Linked DNA regions of Homo sapiens: region 1 is linked to region 2. The links come from fine-mapping of genetic effects on gene expression. Tissue or cell type: whole blood. Region 2 holds a variant in brackets; the other region holds the start of a gene. All regions are shown on one strand. Distances are from middle to middle.

What was found. PIP is the estimated chance that this variant, and not a neighbour inherited with it, causes the effect.
Region 1: RAB32 starts here. The variant in region 2 is fine-mapped to the expression of RAB32 in whole blood (TOPMed, PIP 0.99).

What each region holds. Positions count from the first base shown.
Region 1 is chr6:146,534,957-146,551,867 of GRCh38, forward strand. It overlaps RAB32 (RAB32, member RAS oncogene family), which reads left to right and starts at 8,877. Exons shown (of 3, transcript NM_006834.5): 1 at 8,877-9,165; 2 at 14,508-14,785. The coding sequence starts at 8,916. RefSeq lists a silencer at 8,451-8,830.
Region 2 is chr6:146,589,214-146,600,927 of GRCh38, forward strand. ADGB (androglobin) reads left to right here and starts at 9,759. Exons shown (of 36, transcript NM_024694.4): 1 at 9,759-9,901. The coding sequence starts at 9,828. ADGB-DT (ADGB divergent transcript) reads right to left here and starts at 9,718. Exons shown (of 3, transcript NR_125860.1): 1 at 9,620-9,718; 2 at 8,857-8,958; 3 at 5,303-7,291. RefSeq lists a silencer at 9,560-9,854. The variant T/C (reference allele first, on the strand shown) is at 6,900.

The DNA of each region.
Region 1 (16,911 bases), 52 kb before region 2:
TACAAAACACTGATGAGGAAATAAAGGAAGATCTAAACAAAGGGAATGATATTCTTGGTTTATCGATTGGAAGACTCGATATTGTTAAACTGTCTGTTCTAATATATAGACTCAATGCAATCCCAATGAAAATTCCAGCAATATATGTTTTTAGATATTGATGAACAGGTCCTACAATTTATATGGAAAAACAAAAGACTCAAAATAGCCAACACAATATGAAAGAAAGAAAGTCAGAGGGCTGACACTACATAACTTCAATATTTATTGTAAAGCTACAGTAATCAAGATAGCATGGTATTAGCAAAAGAACAAGTATATGGATGAGAAAAGAGAATAGAGAGTCCATTAATAGACCCACACAAACATAAAAAAGAATCTTTGATAAAAGAGTAAAGGCTATTAAACTGAGCAAAAATAGTCTTTTACACAAATGGTACTAGAACAATTGGACATCCATGCAAAACGTGAACTTACACACAGACATTATGCCTTTCACAAGAATCTCAAAATAAATCATCGACATAAATAAAAATACAGAAATTATAAAACTTATTGAAGAAAACATAGGGTAAGATCTAGATGATTTTGGATTTAAGAATGAATATTTAAATACAACAAGAGTAGCAAAATCATGAAAAATGAATAGGTTGAACTTTATATATTAAAATCTGTTCTACAAAAGACATTGTTAAAAGAATGAAAAGATAAGACACAGATTGGAAAAAATACTTGCAACACAGCTATATAATAAAGGAATTATATCCGAAATATGCAATATACAAAAAAACCTTAAAAGCCAACAAGAAAACAAAAAACAAAATAAAAATGAGTAGAAGATCTGAACAGACACCTCGCCAAAGAATATATGTCATACAAGTGACATACATTGACATACAAGTGAATATATGTCATACAAGTGACCAAATAAGCCTATGAAAAGCTGCTCATTTCCATTTTTTGTTAGGGAAATATAAATTAAAACAACATTCCATTAAAAAGTCAAAATGATAAAGTAAACAGATCAATGGCGGCTAGGGATTCTGAGGTGTAGTAGTAAATAGATGAAGCACACAGGATTTTTTAGAGTGGTGAAACTGTTGGGTATGATACATACTGGCAGATACATGATTCTCTACATTTCTGAAAACCATAGAACTTTACAGCATGAAGAGTGGAGCTTAATGTTTGCAAATTAAACAAACATTTAGGAGATAAGAGGATCCTAGGATGAGATGCAGGCTATGATTTTTTTAAAAAACAACTGTATTACAAATGTATGAAATAATCTTGCTAAAGAGGATGGAGAAAAGATAATTGGTTAGTATATTTAGAAATAAGTAGAGTCTATAATACTGAAGATAAAAGGAACCTTACATAAGCTCTGTATTCTAGTTGATAAACTTGTTTCCCACAGGGATATGGGTCAATAATTCTGAAATTACTATACCTGTACATTGGAATTGCACAATTAAGTAAACAGCTGGCTGATGACAGAAGCCAGGTTTCTCACTGTTGGAGTGACAGGTTACACATAAACAGGTGGGGAATGCCAGAAGGATCCATGTGATCATTGATCAGAATGGGAGACAAGAGTATGAACTCATGTTTAGCTTAAAATAAATACTCTTAGATACATACAGAAAAATTTATAAATATGCACGTATACATGAGTTAGTACACACACATACTTCCTTGTTCTTTCAGCTGAGATGGTCTTGAGCAACGGGACAGTACCAGTGAACACACCTAGCTCAAAGATATCAGTTTTTTATTCCATTCTCCAATGAAAGGATGCCAGACTTGTTGCACAAATGACCAATTTGGGTCTGTGGCATGAAATAATGATCTTGCAGCATCTTGTAGTGCCAGAAAGTGAGAAAAAACTCAAATATAAAACCCACAAAACCCACAGTGACAGGAAAATATCAAAGAGACATTGGAGCCAACTGAAAGAGCTTCCAATGGCGAAAGCTGGAACAATATGAGCAACAAAATAAAGTTATATTGGGGTGTAAGCTGAAGCAGAAAAGAAGTATCAATGAGTTCATACTAGCATCAGTAAATGTTTGGATATATAAATGAATAGGGGAGGAGATCTAAATCTACTATGCAGAATTCAAAACATCTTGTGAGAGATTATCTTTCATAGAGAGAGAGTATTAACCCAGCTACTTAAATATTGGCTGCGGACAGTATTCTAAAGAAAACAATATGGAAAAGGGGAAAACAAGTGACTTTACAGTGCAGAAATCTGACAAACATTACCTTAGTCAAGCAATCAAGATTAACATCAATAATGACAAGTCATATTGATGGCATGTACCTTTCATGTAATTCATGGAGAATGGCACTTTACCTGTGTGGTCTTTCTCCCCAAACCTCGAAGTTCTAGTATAATTTGGAGGAAAGCATCGGATCATCCCCACTGAGGCACATTCTACAGAATACCTAGCCTGTACTCTGAGAACTGCTGCAACCAAAAAGAACCTAAGGAGACATGTTGGCTAAGAGTAATGATTATCCTGAATGGGACACTGGAACAGTAAAAGGTCAGTAGATCAAAACTAAGGAAATCTGAATAAAGCATAGACTTTCGTTAATGGTATAAATATCAGTTCATTAATTATAACAAATTTTCCATACTAATTTAAGATGTCAACAACAGGGGAAACTAGATGTTAAGTACATAGGAACTCTCTGTACTATCCTTGCAACTTTTCTGTAAACCTAACACAATTTTAAAATGATAATTTGATTAAAATAAATTAATGGTGATATGTTGAAATTTTTACCTCTAAAACTAGCATCTCCAGTGTCTCCATTTTTATTCAAAATTATATTAGTAGCCCTAGCCAGTGAAATAAGTTATGAGAAAGGAATAAAATAAGGATAGAAAAGTTTTTTTTAAAATAATGTATACATAGAAAATGTAATTCTATAAATAAACCTTTAGAATTATCAGCGTCATTGAATCAATTCATTATACACAAATTAATTTAATTTTAATTTTACATACCAGCTACAGAAATTTTAAGACGTCTCAAAATTATTGAAATATAATAAGACCTACATAAATGATAGATATACCATGTCAATATTTTTGAAGACTTGATGTTGTATAATTTCCAATTCTTCTCAAAGTGATCTATAGATTCAATGTAATGACAACAAAAGTCCCAGCAGGTGTGTTTCTGAAAATTGAGATGCTGAGACTAAAATTGTATCGAAATATAAAGGAACCAGAATGGTTAAGGGAAACTTGAAGAATTACAGAATGAGAGAATTTGATTTACCAGAAAAGACTTATACCATAGTTACAATCACTAAATAAGAATTGGTACAAGTAAAGACCACAGACTAATGAAGGCAAGAGACAGCAGAAACAGATCCATTCTTACAGGACTACTTGAATTACGACAAAGGTGGCACGTTGGAGGAATAGAAAAAAGATGGGCTTTTCAGTGAATCGTCCTGAGTCAATAGTCCTGAGTCAATCAGTTGTCCCTCTGGGAACCAAATGAAACCTGACGTTTGCTTTTCGTATTTCCTTTGGGGTAGGCCTGCTGGTTAGTGTGGTTTATATTTATCATTCAACGATTATCGTTAAATACCATTTTCCTATTTTATTTTTCATGAACCGTATAACTATCTCAAATTATCTCATTTATTTGATTGCTTTTAAATTATTTTTCCTGTTCCCACTACAATATAAAGTCCCTGAGAACAAGAATTTATCTATGCTGCTAAACATTGTAGCTAAAATATCTAAAATATTTCAAGGTATAATTATAAGCTTTTGAATAAATAAATGAATATACAAATCTGCCAGGAAAATGAGGAGTGAAAATAACATAATCCTTTGATCTAGCGCAGGAAGGATGAGGACAGTTTATTTGAGAGCCTGGGATGGGGTAATGGTTTGGAACATTCTAGATAAAAGGCATAGCAAATGCTGAAACATAATAAATGTGTAGGGGAACATCACAGGGTGACTTTCTGAGTGGGCTATTTTTTTATGTAGTAAATGGAAATGTCTGTTTAAAATAAAGGCAGTCGTATTTATTCAGTGACAAGTCTCAGATTACCTGTATTATGTTCTCTTTATTTCATGTGTGGAAAGAAAACTTGTTTTCCTCTAAAATGTCAGTTCAGGATTCTAACACTTATCCATTCTCCCCCAACCTTCTCCAGTTCAGGGCTGTACACGCAGATATTGTCCAACACTTACTTACAGTACTTGGTATTATGTATGTCTGGTTTCTTTAGTGTGTGCATCATGCTTATCTAGGTTTGTTTGTGTTTTAATACAGATTCCTGGGATCCCCTTCTAAAACATTAAAACAGAAGGTCGGGGCTAATTAACTAGCTAGCTCCCTAGGTAAGTCAGATACACAGCAAATGTGGGAACTACTGAATTCTAATCTGAACCCGTGTGTATTAGTCAGGGTTCTCTAGAGGGACAGGACTAATAGGATAGATGTATATATAAAGGGGAGTTTATTAAGGAGTATTCATTCACAAGATCACAAGGTGAAGTCCCACAGTAGGCCATCTGCAAGATGAAGAACAAGGAAGCCAGTCTGAGTCCTTGAACCTCAAAAGTAGGGAAGCCAACAGTGCAGCTGCCAATCTGTGGCTGAAGGCCTAAGAGCCCCTGGCAAACCACTGGTGTAAGTCCAAGAGTCCAAAAGCTGAAGAACTTGGAGTCTGATGTTCAAGGGCAGGAAGTATCCAGCACAGGAGAAAGATGAACACTGGAAGACTAGTCCGTCCACATTCCTCTGCCTGCTTTAATTCTAGCCACACTGGCAGCTGAATAGATGGTGCCCACCAAGGTTGAGGGTGGGTCTTCCTCTCCCAGTCCACTGACACAAGTGTTAATCTCCTTTGGCAACACCCTCACAGACACACCCATGAACAATACTTTGCATCCTTCAATCCAATCAAGTTGACATTAAATATTAACCATCACACCTTGCTAACAAAAGTGTGGTCTACCAACAGCATTGACATCACCTAGAAACTTGTTAGAAATTTTGAATTTCAGGTTCCATCCCAGATATGCTGAATCAGAATTTAAACTTTTCTAAGATCCTACATAATTTATGTGAACTTTAATAATTGTATTGTAGTAAGAACACAACATAAAATTTACTTTCTTAAATGTTTAAGTGTGCAAGACTATTGTTAACTGTAGGCACAATGTGGTGCAGCAGATCTCTAGAACTTATTCATCTTGCATAATTGAAATTAGCAATTTCCCTTTTCTCCCTGACTCCAGACCCTGAAAACCACCATTCTCCTTCCTGATTTTCTGAGTTTGGCTATTTTAGATACCTTATATAAGTGGATTCATGCAGAATTCTTCCTATTGTGACTGGCTTATTTCACTCGGCATAACGTCTTTGAGGTTCATCCATGTTGTTGCATATTGTGGAAATTCCTTATTTTTAAGGTGGAATAATATTCCATTATATAAGGATGGCTATTATATTTTTTAAAAGACAACAAGTGTTGGTAGAGATGCAGAGAAAATTGAACGCTTGTATACTGGTGATGAGAATGCAAAATGGTGCAGCCACTATAGAAAATAATATGGAGATTTCTCAAAAAATTAAAAATGGAACCACCATATGATCCAGCAATCCCACTTCCAGGTATTTCTCCAAAAGAATGAAAATCAGAATCTTGAAGAGATATTAGCACCCAAATGTTCAATACAGCACAATTGACAATAGTCAAAGTGTGGAAGCAATCTCAATATCTACGGAAGGATAAATGGATTTAAAAAAAAGTGGTATGTATTACTAGATACATAAGAACTTTTAAGTTCGAGAAGCAAATTCTGATCCAAACCACTGTGCTCCTAGACACTTAGCAGCAACATCTCCTGGGAACTTGTTAGAAATGCAAATTATTTGCCTCACCCTAGATCTGAATCAGAACCCCTCTGTTTTAACAAACCCAGAACTCTCAAGTTTGAAAACCACTCATCTAAACTCTTATCCTGTCTTTGAATCGTTGATCCACAACTTTATCCTGCCTTTAGCAGTGACCTTTTCTAATTTTAAGCACCACCACAATTCTACCTCTAAAGTCAGTGGAAATTCAGCAGGGCTAGAGAAGGACGAATAAAAAAAAACATCTATGGTATTACATACGTACGGAACAAAATGCTGCACTTTGTCCAAAAATTGGAGGATTTCCTTTTTTTCCCAAACTGTACATGGGTTTGGAAGGGCTCTCTAATTGGGTGAACATAAAAGCCATGTACTGGTTGGCTGTACTTCCACATCTGTGGTTTTTCAATAGCTATTCTAGAAAAAGGTTTTACTCCCACCTTGACTTCTAAATTTTAAAACGCCTCCATCTCTGAAAAACACTTTTCAATAATTGTCAATTAGAGTGAGGATAGTAGGGTAAGCAGCTGCTTTAGTTTATTTAAGGAAGCTGCCAGATGATGTCAGCTCCAGGTGTTTCTAAATATTAAGGTGATGGGGTGCATCCCTCAACTTTATAGATAGAGAAAGCAAGGGGCTGTCCCCCATGTTTCTTCTTTAAAATAAAAACCCACAAGTCTACTACTTTCCAATCAATTTCCTATGATTTATCTTAGAGCATTTACATCTAATCCAAACACTACCAGATGAAGGTTGAAAAAGGATTGTTAGGGAAGTAAAGTAAGATGGCTTCAGAGTCCCTGTGTCTTCTTTCTCAAACTCCTTCCATAATTTAAATGCTAAAGCATGATAAGGTTTTTAATAGACTATTTTGTTGTGTGTGTGTGTATATATATATATATCTATATCTAAGGTATACGGCATGATGCTTTGATATACATAGTGAAATAGTTACTAGAGTTAAGCAAATTAACAAATTAACATGTCCATCATCTCACATAGTTACACAATTTTTTCTTTTCATTTTTTCTTTTCTTTTTTTTTTTTTTTTTTTTTGAGATGGTCTCACTCTGTCGCCCAGGTGGAATACAGTGGTGCGATTAAGCTCACTGAAGCCTGGACCTCCCAGGCTCAGGTAGTCGTCCCACCTCAGTCTTCTGGGTAGCTGGGACTACAGGTGGGTGCCACCACACCTGGCTGCAATTTTTTTTTAATGGTAACAGCACTTACAGTCTACTCTCTTAGCAAATTTCCAGTTTAAAATACAATATTATTAACTATAACGCTCATGCTACATTAGATCATTAGGACTCATTCATCCTATATAACTGCAACTTTGTACACTTTGACCTGCATCATTCCGTTTCTTCCCTGCCCCTGGTAACCACCACTGTTTCCACGTATTCCGTGTGTGTGTGTGTGTGTGTGTGTGTGTTTAAGATTCCACATATAAGTGATATTGCACAGTATCTTTCTTTTTGTGTCTGGCTTATTTCGCTTAGCATAATGTCCTCCAGGTTTATCCATGTTGTTGCAAATGTCAGGATCGCCTTCTAAAGGCTGAATGATATTCCATTGTGTGTGTGTGTGCGTCTGTGTATATGCGCGCGTGCATGCCTATGTATGTATTACAATTTCTTTATCCATTCATCGTTAACAGACACTTTGGTTGTTTCCAAATCTTCGCAACTGTGAATAATGCTGCATGAACTTGAGAGCGATTTCTGAGATCCTGATTTCATTTCCTTTGAGTATACACCCAGAAGAGGGATAGCTGGGTCACTGGCTTTAGCAACGATTTTTGCAATATCACACCAAAAGCCCAGGCAACCAAAGCAAACCTAGATAAATGGGACTTCATCCAACTAAAATGCTTCTGCACCGCATAGGAAATAATCAACAAAATGAAAAAACAGCCTATAGATTGGGAGAAAATATTTGTGAGCCATATATCTGATAAGGGGTTAATATCCAAAATACATTACGTTCACAGAACTCAGCCAAAATAAATAAATAAAACACCCAGTTAACTAACGGGCAAAGGATGTGAATGGACTTTTTTTTTTTTTCCAGAGGAAGTACAAATTGCCAACAGGTATAAGAAAAGGCGCTCAAAATCACTAATGAACAGGGAAAAGCCACTAGGTATCTCCTCACACCTGCTAGGATGACTGTTATAAAAAAGATAAGCGATAATAAGTGTCGGTGATGTGCGGAGCAAAGGGAACCTTGTACACTGGTGGTGGGAATGCGGACTGGAACAGCCATTATGGAAAACCCTACGGAGGTTCACTCAAAAAGTTAAAAACAGAACTACCAGCCCAGTGTTATCCGTCCTTCGTTAAGTTCAAAGTCACGGTGCCACTTCCTTTCCCATCTAAAGGGGACTGCTCGCGACCCAAGCCAAGGCCCGCAAGTGTGGCTCTCCCTGCGGGGAGAGTAGGGCAGGAGGTGGATTTCCAGGCCAGAGGCTTCCAGGCTGGGCCCGGACCCCACGCCGACCCCGGCCCCGGGGGGGGCTCAGCGACCTCGGCGCCTCCTCAGGCCCCCAGTGAACCTCCGGGGCCCATAAAGGCTCCAGGCCGGCTCCCCGGAGGCCCACCAGCGGGCGTCTGGGCCTCCCTCCGCGCCGCGACCGCCAGGAGGCGCCGCCCGGGAGAGGAAGTCCAGCTGGGCCCGGCCGGGCTTCGGAGGCGCCGCCCGGGAGAGGAAGTCCAGTTGGGCCCGGCCGGGCTTCAGAGGCGCAGGGCGGGAGCCGCCTCGCGCAGGGTCCTCCCCAAGCCGGCGCCAGGCCCTGCCCTCGTCCGGCCCTGCCCTCGTCTGGCCCCGCCCGGGCCGCGAGCACTGGCGGGTTCTGGGTCCTGTGACCGGTCAGGCGGCGTCAGCGGGCGCGGCGGAGGGCTGGCCGGCCTCGGGGGAGTTTCCGCGGCCGCCGGGGGCGCGGCGGCAGAGCGCGAGGCCGGGCAGGGGGCCAGACTCGGAGTCGAGGCGCGCCCGACAGCCGCAGCGCTCATGGCGGGCGGAGGAGCCGGGGACCCCGGCCTGGGGGCGGCCGCCGCCCCAGCGCCCGAGACCCGCGAGCACCTCTTCAAGGTGCTGGTGATCGGCGAGCTTGGCGTGGGCAAGACCAGCATCATCAAGCGCTACGTCCACCAGCTCTTCTCCCAGCACTACCGGGCCACCATCGGGGTGGACTTCGCCCTCAAGGTCCTCAACTGGGACAGCAGGACTCTGGTGCGCCTGCAGCTGTGGGACATCGCGGGTAAGCGCGGCCGCGAGTTTCCCACTCCAGAGCCCCGCCGGGCCGCCTGGCTCCTCTCTGCTTCTTTTCTTTTTCTTTTCTGCCTGAACTCGTCTGCCTGGGTACCTTTAGGAGAAGAGAGAGGCCCAATCCAAGGGCGAGATGCGATGGACGCGGTCGGCTGGACTCGGTGGGGCCCAGAGGATGGGATGGGCAGTAGGAGTTGGAGCAGGTCCTGCACGCCAGAGCTCGCTCTCCTGAAGGGAGGCGAGGAGGCCAGGGGGCCTTTTCCAGAAGTTTGAACTCTGAATAATGCAAGTATATCATACATACACCAGGACTAGTTGAGAAGGCTGCTTTGGAGCGGGCCGGCGCCTCTCAGCCTCAACTCAAGTTCAGAGGGATTGGGTGACTTAACCCGAAGCTGCACTCCTAGTTAGTGACACCACCAAGACCAAAAGCCAGGTTCCTTTCCAGATCATTTTCCACCACCCGCCTTGGCTCTGAGACTGGCCTTTGTGAGGGAAACTCCATTCCTCAAATACTTTGCTCTCATCGGAAGCCGAGGACAGACACTCCGTGAAGATTTGGGAAAGCTTTTCTGAAACCTTACACTCACCCCTTCCTCTCTTGCTAAACCAACACCTAGTCCCATCCCTGGTGCCCTCGCCCCCCCCCGCCCCCCCCCCACTCCTCAATACAGTGTTTCTCTGCCATTTGCTTTCATTTGTTCTGTTTGAGGGGGTACATTTCCCTCTGCTCTGATTTATGAACACTTGAACTTTGCCTGGTGTGGTGGTTGGGAGTGGGCGTTTTAAAGATGATGTTAACTATTGGAAAGTTCATAGAAATGGTACCAAGCCAAGTGCCAGTGGCTCACGCCTGTAATCCCAGCACTTTGGAAGGCCTAGACTGGAGGATCGCATGAGCACAGGAGTTCGAGACCAGCCTGGGCTGTTAGTGAGACCCTGTCTCTACAAAATACATACATACATATATACATACATACATACAAAAAATTAGACAAGTGTGGTCGTGCGTGCCTGTAGTCCCAGCTACTCAGGAGCCTGAGGCAGGAGGATCACTTGACCCTAGGAGAGGTCAAGGCTTCAGTGAGCTGTGTTCTCACTGCTGTACTCCAGCCTGGTCAACAGAGTGAGACCCTATCTCAGAAAAAAAAAAAAAAAGTACGAAAATTACTCTGTTCAATCATTACAGGTGTTAAGAAGCACAGTCTGCAGTACAGCATTAGAATGGGAGCTGGTTTAGGGTTAGAGGACACCTGAGGCCACCCTTCATTCTACAGTCCCTACACTGAAGCCCATGGAGGGTATAGCTACCTGGCTGGTAGCAGAGTGGTTGGGGGGATCACAGGTCTACTGTCTGTCTGCCAGGTAGTGCTCTTGTCATTTATAGCTTGTTACATAAGAAAGAGTAGTAAATAATTGTAACCTATAACTCATTCATTTAAGAGCACATTTCTGTCCCTCAGACAGGAGAATAACTGTATGCAACTCAGTTGCTCAGAAAAAAGGAGTAATCAGCCAGGGACTCAGCTTTTTGTTGTTGTTTTTTGTTACCAAAAACCAAAAGTTCGTTTGAAAAGTCATCTTTGAAGCCAGAAGTTTTTTCGAAACACTTCCTGCCGTTGCACAGAACCCTAATGAGCAGTATTTCTGCTTCTTGACAAAGTCATGGATTCTAAAGGTTGCCTTACCATGTGACGGTCATTCTCCAGGAATCTGCAGCATAGCTGAGGTTTTTCACAAAGATGGTTTTAAAACCTTGCTTACAAGGGTGATTGACCTTGCCTTACTCTTTATGTAAATTATGGCATTTTGTTATTAAACTACGATTGGGTCCCACTGCTGGTAAATCAGTATGAGTAACTAGATTTTTAAGTGTTTATAGTTAGAAACTTGAGAAAGTAAAAGCAGGAGTAAGATACAAATTTTCTTTCTGGTATCACCTCTTCTTTTTTTATTAATCACAGACCTCGAATGACAGGAAGGGGTCATATCTAGTTTTTTATCAGACTCTGATAAACATCTGCCTAGATGGGATATCCTTGTACTTTTCACTAAATCCAAAGCTTGAGTTTTGCCAGGAAGGAAAACAAAAGTTTAAGATCTCCAAAAGGGATTTCTGGATGTTAGATATTGTTTCAACAGGTATTGTTGTCCCATACAGCAAGTACAGACCAGCAATTTACAAAATTAGAGGTAAATTTATAGAAATTATTAGGCTCACATTATAAGTAAGATTTTCAGAGATAGAATTTTAATATCTCTGAATATGAGGGAGAAAAATAGCTTAGTGAGAGACCAAAAACAAAAAAAAAACAAAAAAAACTGTTTTAGAGACCAAAAAAAGCAAAACAAAACAAAAAATCCTTAGCCTAAAGTTTGGAGAGCTACATTACTAACTGTTTGATTTGAATATTTGAGCTACTAGTGAATCTCAGCTCATACCATTTGAATTAAGTAATGATGATGTAATGAAGGCAAACTGATGGCTGCTCCACAAACTTCCCCCAGGGCTAAGCATACTTGCCTTATGTAGTAACAAAGTTGGATCATATTTAATTCTCAAATAATAGAAATATTCTTTGATTGCACAATAGTAGATAGAGCCAGCTACTTGCCATAACTAAGTTAAGGTGTGGTGTTTTTACTAGTTAGGTTTTTTTTTTTTTTTTTTTTTTGGTTGCTTCAGTGAGAGGGCGAGGTAGTGAAGAAATTATGACGAATCTCTATGCTTGAAAGCTGTGGCAAGTATGATAGGCTAGAATTATCAAATGTTTTCTACACATGTAGCTAAGCAGATTCAGCTGAACTCTTCAGGTTAAGAACCACTGTGATCCTCAGATACACAAATCTGTTCTTACGGCATTGAAGGAATCTGGCTTTAAAATACAGATGCAGTTTAGTGCAGTTTTTGTGTTAGACAATTGCCATCTCTTAACTCACACGTACTTTAGGACTGCTGCTCAAAACATAACTGAAATATACTAAAATCTTGAAGTCTTTGATAACACTTTACAGAGATCTTAATAAATGCATACTCAAGATATAGCAAGAGATGTCTCTGATCTTCCTTTTAATGCTCAGTGTAGGTAAAGTAGTATTTGGTTTACTATTATATGCTTATTGCTTATTAGTCACTATAGCATTTTTCAGGCAAATTGAAAGACTGGTCTAGGTTAAATCTTAAAAAAACAAGTTTGTCCATTTAGGTCTAGTATACTTTAGCCTTCATGTATTGACTGAGTGATTTGCTTTTTAGGATCAACATTTTTTAATAAAAATCTGAATGAGTAACTCTCCTTTGGGCCAAAGGACAAATTGGGAACAGTCTGCTCTGAAGTTCATATAAATAATATTTACCCAAGCATAAAATGTGTGCTTGGAAGATATAAACTATATAATTTATGCCTAAACTTATTTTACATTGTTTTGATTCCCATCCAAAATAGAATGTGGATCCTGATTGCCTTGCTGCATCTTATACTTTGTCGATTAGTATACCTAGTAATATCCCTTTGTCTTTTTTTTCACAACTCTCCTATCATCTTTCATGAGCACGAGTAAAAGGAAATACTTGAAATTTACAGATGATTCACAAAAAAAAAAAAAAAAAAGCAACAGTCACTAAAGTTTAACAACTCTTTGTTAACTTCTAGGTTTCTAACTGTTCTTTTACTCATTTGTCACCCCACTCTCTTTTCTAAATTAAAGATATAGTCCAAAGGAATAGTTTATTACCATGTAATTATCTTGAAATCTTACTTTTTCAATTTCCTAATTTAAGACTGTCATATCTTGTTGCTTAGTCTTTTCATATTCAATAATTAAAATATATAAAAATGGAAGTGGTTGGTAATGTGTGCACTGCATTTGAAATTGGAGTCTGAATCATTTCAATGCATATAGTCTTTCTGCAGAATAGCGATTTTGAACAGTTGGCATATCATGTAAGTTTTTATAAATGTCAGCATTATGAGCCAATGAACTATATAATGGTCAGATTTACATCACAATAAAATATGAGCATAATAGTAGGGTTTCATATGTGACCATTTGTTACAGTAAAATTTAGACCTTTGGACTATTACAGTACAGCTTCAGTTAAACCATATGAGGAGTCATCACAAAACAAACCTTAAATTTATGCATTCACGTTTGACCATTGTTTTATTCTTCTTCCATTATTCCCTAAAACAATATATAAAATTATATTGCATTGTAGAGTTTGGAGAAGGAAGAATTTTATATTTTGGGGTATCTTTGCATCTGTGCAGAGAAAATGTGTCAATAAAATGTAGATAAAGCCTGTTGCTCATGTGTTTCAAGAAGAAAGTGTCTTTATCATAGAACAGAGTGATACATCTTAGATGTGCATTGATTGCCAATCATTTTTCCTTCACACTGTAGTCAGTAACTAAGTCAAGGCAACTGCAAGATAGTTCAGAAAGGCTAGCATCCCACTTCTATAGGTGTGTGGGAGTCAGAAGACCTGGATTCTAGTCCTGTCTTCTTTAGTCAGTGCCACTATAATCCTGGCCAAGCATCCATTTTCCTGTTGTTACATCTGTCAGATGAAAAGAAGGGTCTTTCCTATGCCAAAGATTAGTACAATAGCAGATAGTAAGAGAACGCTTTGCAAAGTCCTATATAATGTACAAAGCAGATTTTTCCCAAAGTGTTTGACATAAATTATTTTAAAAGTACAATGACATTTGAAGAACCCTGGAATTGATTCTTCTTGTAACAACACAACCAGTTGTGCCTTTTGTTCTGAAACAGATTTTCATGTATCTACTACTTACAGGGGTGAAATCTTGCATATTGAGTCAGAAGTGGGTATGGGCTAGAGATATGAAGGAGAGATGAGTTGAGAACATGAACTACTTTATCTCATGTCCAGCCCTAATCTATTTGACTAGCATGTTACCCACTGCACTTATCTCCTTCCTGCAGGCTTCATTTCTTCTATTCTTGTCTCTTCTTCCTCTACTTCCAGCTTTATGTTTTCCTTTAGTGCCTCTCTTCTCTTAGACTAAGGGGAGACGAGTCGGAATAAATGACAGACTTTGTAGCTTTAAATATTGTCATATTGGTTTTTATGGAGAATATGTTGTACAGAACATAAAACTAATTCATTATGTACTTAAACCAAATTATCAGACACATCTGCTCTATGGGTCATGGTCTGTATGGATAGCCTTAATCACACCAGGTTATATTGCTGTGGAATGGAAGACATTTGTTCATAGTGTTGCTCTTGGGGTAAAAGGGGTTATACCTAAATGTAGACTCTGTCTGAATTACAAGTTTTTAATTTTTTCTTATATTTATGTCTAGGGCAGGAGCGATTTGGCAACATGACCCGAGTATACTACAAGGAAGCTGTTGGTGCTTTTGTAGTCTTTGATATATCAAGAAGTTCCACATTTGAGGCAGTCTTAAAATGGAAAAGTGATCTGGATAGTAAAGTTCATCTTCCAAATGGCAGCCCTATCCCTGCTGTCCTCTTGGCTAACAAATGTGACCAGAACAAGGACAGTAGCCAGAGTCCTTCCCAGGTGGACCAATTCTGCAAAGAACATGGCTTTGCCGGATGGTTTGAAACCTCTGCAAAGGTGAGATCTGCTTTGCTTATGCATCTTTTGCTTTCTAGCTCATAATTCTGAGCTGTAAATGTAAAGTATTTAGATATATTTATGTGAGTGGTGTTTGAAAGTCTGGAAAATGAGAAGTGTAGCATGGATGTGTTATAGCTTCTTTCAGTCCACAACAGGACTGCTTTCCAAATTGGCTAATGGCTAATAGAAGGGCAGATTTTCCATCAAAACAAAAAGAATTATTTAGGGCAAAAAGCAAATGACATTTTCTGTGAGTTTGAGTTTTTAACTGAGGTACTTCTCATGCAACTAGAGTGGTTGGGGGTATTGTCAAGCACGAGAATTTTTGGTTTTTACAAAAGGCTAAGTGAATAGGAAGATGCCTCTGGTGAAGATGTGTGTCACATGCAGGACCATGTGAAAAGATCAGAGAGGAGATTTATTCAGATGATGTTTGAAGAGTTTTAGGTTAACTGTGTACGAAAGATTTGAAACAGCCAGAAAGTATCAACATTTGTGGTATGCTTCATAAACAGTAGAGTGAGAATTTTTTCTTTTGTCTATTATGGAAAGCTGAATAAAATATTTTCTGAAGGAAAAAATAAAACACTCAGTTGACTTTCAAAAATCTTAACAGTCTAGTGACCAGGCACGGTGGCTCATGCCTGTAATCCTAGCAGTCTGGGAGGCCGAGGCAGATGGATCGGGCAGATCGCTTGAACTGGGAGTTCGAGACCAGCCTGGGCAACGTGGCGAAACCCTGTCTCTGCCAAAAATACACAAAGTAGCTGAGCATGGTGGTGCATGCCTGTGGTCCTAGCTTCTCGGGAGGCTAAGGCAGGAGGATCACTTGAGTCTGGGAGGCAGAGGTTGCAGTGAGCCGAGATCATGCCACTGCACTCCAGCCTGGGTGACAAAGTGAGACCCCATCTCAAAAAAAAAAAAATCTTAATAGTCTAGATATAGAAAAAAGGTGAAAATTATACATATATAAAATGTTTGGGGGGGGGGTTACGTGCATTGGAACTTTCACATAAGGGGGTTAGTGACAATCAGATTTATGTAAGAATGATGAAATGTTTGAAAAATTCTGTGATGACAGATAAACATTATACCATAAATTTGTTGAAATCATAACACAGTTCTAGCTTTTAGTTTATGTTCTGTGGATTTCTTGTGTGTGTTTACGGGTGTTTTTATATATGTATGTATGTATGATTGTTCCTCCAAATCACCCACCTCATTCTGGATATTTACTAATCAGATTAGGTTTAGCTCTACTAGAAACTTACCCTTAGAGTGAAAAACTACTTGATGCCAATGATGATCTGCGGGATAAAAGCGAAGCAATGAGAGACTGCACAAAAGGAGACCGCTCCAAAAATATTGCGCAATGATGGAGTCACTGGGAAAAAAAAGACTGTCTACTGCAGGCAGAAATGTACACTCCTAAGCTAGAGGCTAATTGTTTGAATAAATATAGCATCTTAAAATTTCCTTTCATAAATAAAACATAGTGATAGAAGAAAGATGAAGCCCAGGAGTGCTATGTGAGCACTTAATCTGACACGAAGGAGAAAATCACAGAAAGAAAGCCTTCTTATAGAGAAGTCACCTCATTCTCCCAAGAAGCTAGGACCACAGGCATGTGCCACCATGCCCAGCTACTTTTTGCATTTTTAGTAGAGACAGAATTTTGCCGTGTTGCCCAGGCTGGACTCAAACTCCTGAGCTGGAGTGATCTGCCTGCCTCAGCCTCCCAAAGCACTAGGATTACAGGCGTGTTCTTCTGGACACTCATGCCCTCTGTCTGCTCTGTATGCCTATTGGGTGATTTGCTCTACTTGCCAGCTTTGCTGTAAAAAGACGAAAAAAAAAAAAGGGGCAGTAAGTATAACTGCTTATGCGAGTGTGCATTTTGGTGGAGGAGTTTTATAAATGATAGACAAAATTCCCCTTTAGGCTCTATTTAATCTTTCAGATAGTAAATCCAGATTTGCCCCCAGATGTAAGACGTCATGTGACTAGTAGCTTGTGACTGTGTAAGTCATCGGTTTCACTTTATGTATGGATAGGATTACACGCAGAGGTGAAAGGTGAAACGCTGGTTAAGAGTACAAGTTTCAAGTTTGCTCTGTGCTTCC
Region 2 (11,714 bases):
TTCTGCCCTTCTCATCCTGAGCAGCCACCTATGTCTATTTTCAACAAATCATCCAGAAAGATCATTTTAAAGCCTAAGTTAGATCATGTCACTTCTTTGCCCCAAATTTTCTAATTGCTATCATCTGATTCAGGATAAAGGCCATGTTCCTGATAGGGGTGTATAGGATCTGCCATCCTGCTGCCTCTCTAAATTCATCTTTTACTACTTTTCCCCATGCTCTGTTTGTTCTTTTCATGAAGGCATAGTATACATCATGTACCCTCCTATCTCAAAATTTCACTTGCTACTGGCCTTGCCCAGAATGGTCTTACCTTCAGAGGTATGGGTGGCTTGGTCTCTTTCCCACTTCAAATCTTACTTCAAATCTTTCTTCAAATGTCCCATTATTAGAGTGGCCATTCCTATGCCCTTGATGCAATTAATAGCAATTTCCTCCTCAATTTTTCCATTTCCTATTTTCTCTACCCTATTTCCCTTTCCTATTTAGTATTTACCCACTTTTGACATAGTATAACAACATGCATATTATGTGTTTATTATCTTTCTCCCTGTACTAGAATGTAAGTTCACAAGAACTAGGATTTTGTCTGTTTTGAACCCTTCCAGACCCTAGAATTGGACTTTGAACATAGCAGATGTTCAATAAGTTTGTGTTAAATCAAAGAATGGATAAGTCTGTTTATTAGATGAAGCTTTCATTATCCAATGCTCTTCTTCCTCTTATAGCCTTTAACTTTAGCTCCATCTTTTCGACTCCTTGATAAAGCAAACTTATCTTAAATTAGTTGCCTTTAAATTAATGCATATTATAAAACTGTGTTTTAAACTTGGTTATGAAGCTGACAATATGCTCAAATGCAAACAGTGTAAAATGCCTAATCACATTTGAAAGCATCATTCTCTGAGAGAGCAACACATGCCTCGTGTCAAGAGGGATGACAAGGTTGGATGTCAATCCTTTTTAGCATTCCCCTTTTTAGAGGGGAAAGGATTGGCAGAATCAGAGATACTTTGATGCCTTTCTACTTTGTTTCCCAGGCTTCTGCCACTGCTCACTTCTTGCTGTTTTAATTCGGCGAAAAGCCCACCATACATATGTCCTTACACTACCCTCAAATTGTTCAGTTTCCCATAGTGATGCCCTACTCAAGACATTCCTCACCAAAGTATTCTTTAATTCTGGAAGTGCTGGTGTCTATACTAGCACTAATGAGGATCTGGAACATCATCTAGTTCATCTGACCATTCTTTTTTTTTTTCTTTTTTGAGACAAGGCCTGGCTCTGTTGCCAGGCTGGAGTGCCATGTTGCAACCATAGCTCACTGGAGCCTCCGCCTCTTGGGCTCAAGTGATCCTCCTGCTTCAGCTCCCAAAGTGCTGGAATTACAGGCATGAGCCACCATACCCAGCTTACCTGACAATTTTCTAAGTAAGGAAACTAGAACTTGGAAAGATGAAATGACTCATGCAAAGCCAGTCCAGGCCTCCACTTCCCCATTCCTGTTCATCTGTCCTGTACTGTATTTCCAATCACATTAGTTAAATACAGGAATAACCTAAAAGTCCAGTAAGAGGGCAATGGCTAAGTACATCCATGTGAGGCTTACTACACAGCTATTAAAATTTTTATCATGTAGAAAACAATTAAGTGACCTTAGTAAATGTTAACAACAATAGTTAAGTGAAAAAAGTCAAATACTCAATTTATAAAATAATTGCGTACATAATGGGAAGCCTCTGTAACATCAAAATATTGTCAGTGGTTATTTCTGGAAGTTAGGATTAGAGATTTTTTTTACTTGTGCTTATACTTGCATATTTCCAAAATCAACACTTTTATAATAAAAAAATCTAACTTTTCTTCTGCTCCATGCTCCTAATTAAATTTGTCTGCATTTTTAAACACTAGAATATATTTTTAAATGTTACTTTTTTGTATAAATAGCATGTGTGAGATATGATATTTAAATATGTGGAAAATTGAATAAGCTTCATAAATGTAAAGAATTACTAGCAATTAAGTCAAAAGACAGAATGGCATCTAACAACCTTCACAAGGTATATAAGATGAAGATTCTTTGGGGAGACTAGTATACCTTATGATAATCATGAAGCTCTATTTTTTCTTTATAATTCTCATGTTTTAAAATTATACTTCAAATTAATTTTCTATCCTTTTAAAAGTTTTTGGAATTATTTGAAATCTTTATAGATCATCTCAATACAAAATTCTGTTAGTCTCTTCTTTGCAACTTCGGTTTATGCCAAGCTATTTTTGAACCTTCATATAGACTACGTAATGGTTTCTCATATAAGAATGATTGCGTTGTCTTATGTTGTTTCATTTTTGTTTAAAATATGCATCTCAATTGTCACAATAATCAGATGAGGAATGAAGTTTATAACCATTTTTTAGATGAGTAAAATCAAGGTCAGAGAGTCTAAATAGCTTGCCTGTTATCATACATCTTACAAATAATAGAGCTAAGTTGAAACCCAAGTCTAAATGCCAGTAAACTCAATGCTACAATTAGAATCTACCTGTACACTGCCTAAATAGAATCTTCTAAATTAACTTGGTGACATATTGCATAAGTGCAAAAATGGAGAAGTTTGTCTAGTGTTCTTTCATCTGCTCTTGTACTTGTGCTGAAACCTTCAAAACATCACCTTTCACTATCTAGAACTTCTTGCTGCAGCAAGTCACCCAGGACTGCTTCATGATCCAGATCTGAAATGTCACTCCCACCCTCTCACCATGCATCTGTCTTGTGCTTATGCCCATGTGTCTAATCTCAGCTAGAGATTTCTTTCCAGTCACAATGTGCTGTATGACCCCTTCGATGTCCTTCATCAGGATTAACAGCTATTCTATGGAATTCATTGTGTCATTTTGTAAATATCAGTCCTAGTTCCTTGTAGGTTCATAACCCACAAGATTATGAGTTCTTTGGGGATAAAAACCAAATCTTAGTCATCTTTTTAGAAATACACAAGGCATAAAATTAACCTCCAGATAAACTAAACATCCAGATAAACACAATTACATTAAAGAAAAATTAATAGCTGTAACAGATGGTACAAGCATCCAAGAAGGTAGAATTCAACATGTCCTGTAGCTAATAAAAAATAGAGCAAATGAGGAAAACATGTCCTATTAGGAGGAAAGATAATTCAACTGAACCTGACCCAGAAATGACATAGATGTTAGTTAATAGACAAGAACAAGAAATCGGTTATTATAACTATATCTCTTATTTTTAGAGTGGCAACAGCCATCCAGTTTCTTAATCCTTATAATTACTATTTCTCAAAACCTCTCAAAGGCCTGAGATATTGTATCTGTTGGTGCATTCTCTTCTACTATTATCTTGTTGTAATTTACCACAGGTCAAAGTTTAACAGTTGCACTGCAATCCTGCACTAATGAGGAACTCATTACCTGTTGGTCAGCTCCAAAGCTGACCCATTTTACAATGTTTGCTTTAACTGTGGCTTTAATCCATTTGGTTGTGATGCCCCTGGTGTAGTTTTATCATGTTTATTCTGCTTGAAGTTCATTAAGTTTTTTTGATCTATGGATTTATAGTTTTTATGCAATTTGGAAAATTTCCATCATTTTTTCATGTAATTTTTTTCTGTATTCACTGTGCCATCTCTGACCCCAGCCCTCACCGTTCAGGGACTCCAGCTAATCTTTATTAGACAATTTGAAGTTGTTCCACAGTATCCAAATGCTCTATTCATTTGTTCAACAGTTTTTTTCTCTATATTTCACTTGGGACAATCGCTATTGATGTGTCTTCAAATTGGCTAATCTGTTTTTCTGCAATGTGTAATCTGTTGTTAGTTTCATACTGTGTATTTTTCTTTTCTTTTCTTTTCTTTTTTTTCTTTTTGGAGACAAAGTCTCGCTCTTGTCCCCCAGGCTGGAGTGGAGTGCGATGGCACGATCTCAGCTCACTGCAACCTCCGCCTCTCAGGTTCACTTGATTCTCGTGCCTCAGCCTCCTGCGTAGCTGAGATTACAGGCACCTGCCACCATGCCCAGCTATTTTTTTTTTTTTTTTAGTAGAGACGGGGTTTCACCATGTTGACTAGGCTGGTCTCGAACTCCTGACCTCAGATGATCCAACCACCTTGGCTTCCCAAAGTGCTGGGATTACAGGTGTGAGCCACCGCGCCCGGCCACAGTGTATTTTCAATGTAGACATTGTACTTTGCATTTTTAGAAGTTCCTAAAATGAACTTATCATATTCTTTCTTTTAGTTCTTGAACATATGGAGTTCAGTTTTAATAACTGTTTTAATGTCCTCTCTAATAATTCTCTTATTTTTTTCTGAGTTACCTTCAATTAGTTGATATTTTTCTTTTAATGAGACATATTTTTCTTATTCTTTCAGACCTGTTAATTTTTATTGGATATTAGTTATTGAGAATTTTACTTTGTTGGTAAGTAAACAAGGTAAAATTCTTGTTTACTCGGATATTTTTGTATTCCTAAAAAATATTCTTAAGATTTTTTTCTGTGATGCTGTTATTTGGAAATAGTTTGATATTTTCAGATCCTGCTTTTCAGATGTGTTGGTTGAGACTAGTGGAGCATTTCGTCTAGAATGAATTGTTCACTCTCAAGGGCAAAACTCTCTTTGTATTCCAGTCCATACCCTGTGAATTATGAGTTTTTTTCCAATCAGGCAGATGGTAATAGGCACCATTCCCAGCCTACCGTAAGCTCAAAGAAGGTCGCTCCTTCTAAACTTGTTAGGTGGTTTTTTCCCCTGGCCTCAGGGAATTTCCTCACATGAAGGAACAGATAAGCGGTCATGAATACTGAGTCCTCCTCTCTGAAGATCTCTCCTCTGTGCAGTTCTGTCCTCTCCATACTCTGTCTGTGCAACTTCTACTTTCTGGCACTCCATTCTGTGAACGCTGGCTGCCCAGTCTCCCTGGACCTCAGCTCTGTCTCTCCCAATCAGGGCCACCATCAGGCTCTGCCTAGGTTCCCCTTTTCTGTGCCACAACCTAGCAGTAAGATGGGACAATTAAAAGGCTCAGTTTTTTTGGTTTCCATCTCCCAGGTATCACTCTCTTTTATTGTCTGACAGTCAATATCCTCATATATTTTCTTTAGTTTATTAATTATTTCATGAGAGAAGGTAAATTCTCTGTTACTTCATCTTGCTTGGAAGTGGAAGTCTTCCCAAATCCCATTTTAGAGTCTGCTTCCTAGGATCATCCCTATTACTAACACTGTTCCAAGCTAGTTCCCAGGAACCAGGCTCTGGTGCTCTGAGATTTGCATGCATGAGGTTTATTAGTGAGTATTCTCAATAACATCTGTAGGGGAAGCAGGATTGGGGAGAAGGAGAAGTTAAACTGCAACGCAGTTGTAACAGAAGCCTTCATGGGTCATAAGGGAAGTTCTGGAGAGAGAAGCACCTTTCAGAGTTGCCCCATTTATATCCCCTTCTTACATAAACTAGTGGGACACATGTAGCTCTCAGTGCAAGTATACAACAAAGGGTGAGTGTCTCTGTCCAGAAGGGGAAACAGAACCACCCATCTGCTGCACAGATAATTGCAGCATTGTACAAAATAGGTTTGTTTGCATCCTGATGAAGCATTTAGTTACAGTTAGTCATTGCTTCTTCTTGAAGCAGCTTATCAAAATGGAAATTGTTTTTCAACTAATAACTTATTTCCATATCCCCCATTTTTTAAAGAACCTCTATTCAGAATTTCCTTTCACAGGTCATTAAAACTATAAATTCAATTTTTCCCAGAATAACGGGGCTTTCTGTGGCAGGGCCAGCAGGTTTCATATCTGCAGGATCCAACTTCTCCTTAACAGGTGTAGAGACTGAATATTACTGGACACAACTGAATGTCAGTTGTGATTTTTAATACCATTTCCAATGATCTGAAGTAAATATGTTTTGAACTCTGAAGTAGGCAGTGTGTATGTAGCAGAGAGTTTAGGAGCCTGCACTCTGAAACCAAAGTGTTCACCTATGCATTTTGACTCCATTCCCCCTGTGCTTTGGACTTTGGGCAAGTTGCTTTGCCTTTCTAAAGCTCATTTTCTTCGCTATAAAATGGGCAGAGTTTCATACTTCATAGGGTTGTGATCACTGAAGGTGTCAGAGGCAGAATAATGTGGTTATAAAGAGCATGGGTCTAGAGCCATGAGTTTGAATCATGCCTGATCACTTACTAACTTAATTTAGCCACTCTTTGCCTATGTTCCTATTTATAAAAGAGAGATTATAATAGCAAATCCCTAGGGTGTTTGTAAGGATTAAGTGAATTAATACAGAAAAATAGCTTAGAAGAGGGTCAAGCACATAGCAAGTGCTCAACAAATGTAAGCTCTTATTATTAAGGGTTTAGGAGCTTCAAAAGTGTGAATGAATTTGGTAGAAGAGGAGTTTTTGCTTTGAGTGACCCTACAGTCTAGTAAAGGAGAAAAAACAAGGCATAAGTATTAATAAAAACAAGACAGAATATTATAGGAATTTTAAAAGATGAACAAATAAAGTTCTGTGGGAAATAAAGGAGAAGGGTGTAAATTTCCATGGAAATGTGAAAAGAACAGAACTTGAAGTGACAGTTAAATTCAACCTTACACAGAACATGTAGAATGCATACTTTCTCATTTGGCTGGTTAAATTCCAAGTAATTTTATAATTGACCTAATTGCAAAGAGGTAGCTGAGCAGCAAAATATATACAATTCCCTATGGCTGTGGAATCAAGTGTCTGAAGATGGAGTTATGGATTTAAGAAACAGAAATGCTGCCACTCTGCCCACCCCTGCCATCTCCCACCCAGTTCCCTCCATCTAGGATTCCCATTGGTGGAGGGAGAAGTGGTTGCCAATTCTCACTTCCCTA[T/C]TTAGGCAGATCCTCAAGCAGAGAGACTCCTGCCTGTTTTGTTTCTGCTGATATGGGGAAGTGGGTACCTCTAACCACTTCCCTAGGGAGCAGGCGCTACTGCTGCCTGAAGCCAAATATCTCTTCCCCGAAAAGGAAGTATAGATTAGAGAGAGGCCCTATTCTGGGTAGCTTGAATAAAATATAAGCCCTGTTTCTCAGTCTTTGACAGTTGTTAAATAGCAAGAGTTTGGAAATCCCTAAGCTCAGTCCCAGGGCAATCATCTGTATGGACAGTTAGTCCAGAGAATTGGAGAGAGCACAGGTTATGGAGTGGCCAATCTTCCTCTGCCACCTACCACCTGCTCCATGTCAGGCAAGTCCCATTTCCTGTCTGCATTTCAGTTCTTTACCTGTGGAATAATAACATTAGCTATAATTCTCTGAATGCTTGGGATGAGTCAAGCATATTTGAGGTATTATTCTTCCCTTTCCACAAATAAAGAAAATGGAAGTTAAATAACTCACCCATAATTACCCAACAAGAGTCAGGATTTAAATTCAAGTTTATCTCTAAAGGAGTTAGCACCCTTCCCTAAACCTTGCATGTAGTAGGTACTCAATAAATCACAGCTATTATTATTATTATTCCAAAGTGACATTGACAACAGTTATAAGAAAAATAAAAACAGCAGTAGGACCTATTGTCTTTTTTGCACTGCCACAATAAATATCATGTTAAGCTTTGTAGCTAGAACTATCTTAGAGAGGAACAGATTTGCTCTTATAATTACAGCCTGACCAGAACCTTAGCTCCAGAAAGAAGAGAAATTCCATTTATGCATGTTGCACTCTTAATATAATAAAGGAGAAAGAACACTGGCGTAGGAATTAATAGGCAACTTATACTCGTCACATCTTTTATGATTATCTTATTCCATTCTGGTGACAACCCCCTTACTTTATCCTAATTTAATAGATGTTTAAAAAGCAAGCTCTGAGTGGAGTAGTGATATGTTTGGCTTAAACTGGCAATGCTGACTTTAATGTGTTTAGTCCAAATTCCATCAATAAATAACCCAGCAACTTTTGGCAAGACATTTTGCTTGTCTTCGCCTGGAGTTATTTGTCCATAAAATACCGGTGGGATGTAGATCTTTTGATTTCTAAGGCTTATCTTCCCTAATTCTTTTGGCATCTTGCAGCCATTAACAATGGCTGCAGGATAGCCCTTGTTCAAGAAGAAACTCACCTCTCTGTGGGGTTGGCTGCTTAAAGTTGTGCTGTTTTCAGCCAAGAGTCTTTGTATATACTTATAGCTATAAATTTGATTACTCTGACAAAATTTGGTAGTAAATAATTTTTCTCACCATTTAGTCCTCTACTTTCATTCAAGAGAGTTCTCTGGAAATTTGAATTATGGTATAAACAAAGCAGAATCTTCATGATGTGTTCATTGTCTTTACATATATAGGAGATGTTTGCAGGGCAGTCTTGTAGTCATAATATTAACACTGCTGACTTGGAATTTATTTATTTTGCATATAGAAATACAACGAAGGGGCTGTCTGTCATCTAGGTAACCCCCAGTAGTAATCCAATAGTAATAAGATTGGGATAGTCTGACAAACCATAGGCTATGCTGAGTGGAGAGCCCTGAGCATTCATTTGTCAGAGAAGTTGAAAGATTTTCTCTGCAGGAAGCTGCCTCTTGCCTGCACAGGTGGAACTGTGAGCATGTGCCCAGTCCCATGAGTGGAGGGGATTTCTTTTATTTAAAGATACTTAACTATTTCTAGGCTCATGAAAGACACCAACCAGTAGTAGTGGTCCTAGGCCTAAGGGCTGTGTGTCAGATATCTCTGAAGTGAGGTTATATTGAACCAACACAATATTTTGTTTTGTTTTGATAAATTTGCAAGCTCTTGCAGTCTAAGCATGTCTCAGTTAAGCATAGTATCCACTACTCTGTATTTACCTGGCCAACTTCATTCATTCACGCTGTCTGCTGCTCCTCGAAACCAGGTGGTCTGTCATCTCTGAAAGAGTGGCTCCTATTTGCTGCGCTTTGCATCTTATCCTCAAAACAGAACTGTGAGTTAGGTATAACTCCTATTTATAAGTGAGTAATAGGCATCTCCTATTTATAAGTGAGTAAACTGAGACTCAAAGGGAAAAACTAGCCCAAGGCAAGATAACTAACAAATCACCACTGATGACTGAGCCTTAAGCCTGCGCCCTAATAAGTTTCATTTTACTTGGTTCTGTCTGTGTCATCTGGCCCCTGGACCTTTTCTGGAAAGTCTGCAAAGGACCACCTGAGCCCATGACTTGGACTCACTCTTTCATTCGAACAACAAGACACCTTATTGGTTTTATTACAGATATCATCACCTAGCCCTCAGCGACTCAAGGTGTCATTATTTTGCCTTCCTTACACCCACTGTGTTAATTTCTGGACCCCAGGTTTTCAAGCCATTGACAATTTCAGCGTGTCTGTAATGTCTCCTTAGTAATTATTGAAGGTACTTGTTATATTTAGCCAAGAGAATAACTGGGGTGGTACTAGGATAACATCTACGTTCAAATAGTTGGATATTCAAGAGTCGATATATGTCTATGGTTCCGAAGGGCAAAGCCAGGCAGTGTAGGTCCTGCAGAACTCCAATTAATCAGGGCTGCCCAGTAATCCTAATGCCAAACCCGTGCCCCAGAACCTCGATTTCTCCCCAGACACCAACTCCAAGTTCCTCCACGGGGATGTGGGATTTCAGTTTATGCTCTTGCGTCCCTCTGCAGCCACAGGCCGCAGAGCCCGCCCCCAGGGCCCCGCCCCCGCTCTCCGGGCGCTGGACGCGGGACGCCGTCTCCTGGCAACGCAGACGCGGAGCCGAGCGCGCCCGCAGGCTCTTTGCTCAGAGCTCAGCCCTACATAGATCGGCTTCTGCCATGGCCTCCAAACAAACCAAAAAGAAAGAGGTGCATCGTATCAACTCGGCGCACGGATCGGATAAATCGAAAGAGTAAGGGACCTCTGCCTGTCCGTCCCTCCCCTGGCCTAGCCCCTCGACCTCACCACTAGTTCTGGGGCTGCCTCCCTGCAGCAAACTGTGCCAGGGCAGAAGTTTAGTGGCCTCCTCGCAGCTTGTCTTCTCTGGTAAACCAGATCCTGGAGGTGCTCGCTCTCATCCTTCTCTCTTGCTTGTCTTGACTCACTTCCTTTCCCAGAGCCCCTGATTTTCTTGCTTTGGGTGTTCAGCTCCCATGGGTGAATCTGCCACCCCTCCTCTTCTTCATAGCCCTCTCAGGCAGTTAGAAAGGCCATAGCTTTCCTAAGAAAGAGGCATATCTCAAATACTTCTGGTTAAAGCCACATCTTCATGGCCCCGGAAATGATACAGACAGCGAGTGACAGACAGACATGGACACATTTCACCTTAATGGTGATTTTCTAGTTTGCATCTGCCCAGTCCAACGACTACGATCTTTAATCAGATATAGTCAGACGTAAAGTGGCTTCTAAACCTTAAAACATTATAAATGTATAGTTCATGTTACTAACATTTACTCTGAGAAAGTAAACAGACCCTCGCTCATGGAATTTTTATGGTGCCTTTGTCCTGGGCTGGTGTTAGGTGTTGTGTCTTAGGATGTACTTCCCCATGATTATTATTTTCTGTGGTCTGTTTCCCTAGGGATATCCAGTTATCCACAGCATAGGATTGGGGCTGTTTGAACTTACACCATTTCTAATGTTCATTCCCACTGTGAGAGAATCCCAGCTGCCCGCCCTGCTTCAGTGGGATCATTCATGTTCTTCATGCTCTGCCTGATGGGGAGGGCGATGCAATCAATCATTTCAAATTGAATTCTTACATCCTTGATGCCTGTTTCTCCATTTCCTTCCCTGGCTGAAGAATTCCACATTGGACTGATCCCTATGATTCACTGATCCCTAGGATTTAAACTCTTTTTCTTTGTGAATTCTTCTCCCAGACTCATTCCCATGTCTGTGAATCTCTAGTCCCTTAGTTCTAACCTCTCTCATAAGCAGGTTTCCAGTTACCCGGCAGATAATCCATTCCTTTTACTAGCTTAAATTTTAGATATTACATATATAAGTAATATTACATATATAATTTTATATAAATATTACATATGTAATTTTAATAGGATTGCTTTACTTCTGTGTACCAAAGTCAGGTCTTTTCAGCGTTGTCTAATGGCTTCCATTCCTCTAGGTCCAAGGCCGAGGACGCCCTTCAGAATCAGGCCTGTATTACTTCTCTAAAGTTACCTTCCACTAGCCTTCTCTCCACTCCCTGAGTCATCTCAGGATTGTTCCCACCGCAGGGCCTTTGCACTTGCTGTTTCCCCTATTGGAAAGCTTTTCTGCTCAAATATCCATATGGTTTTCCCTCTCCCTTCCTTCAGGAGTTTACCTAAATGTCATTTTCTCCTGTTAGCTTCTTTGGCCACCTGATTTAAAGTTACAACCTCTACTTCTCTGCCAAAATAAAACAAAACAAAACAAAGCTCCCTGTCTTCCTTCACTGTTTTATTTTTTTATTGACTTTTATTTTTTTGCTCATTTAACATGCTATATATTTCACTTTTTAAAAACTACATTTTTTTTTTTCATTTGTCTTCCCAATAGGGAAGGCAGGGATTTTCCTTTTCTATTTTACATACTGTTGAATTCTTAGTACTTAGATAGTTCCAAGATCATACATAGTAGGCACTCAAAAGTGTTTAGTGAATGAATGAATGACTCTCTTAACTAGGAGATATTAAAGGATTGCAAAAGAATTTTGAGTACACCCCTCCCCCATGCGC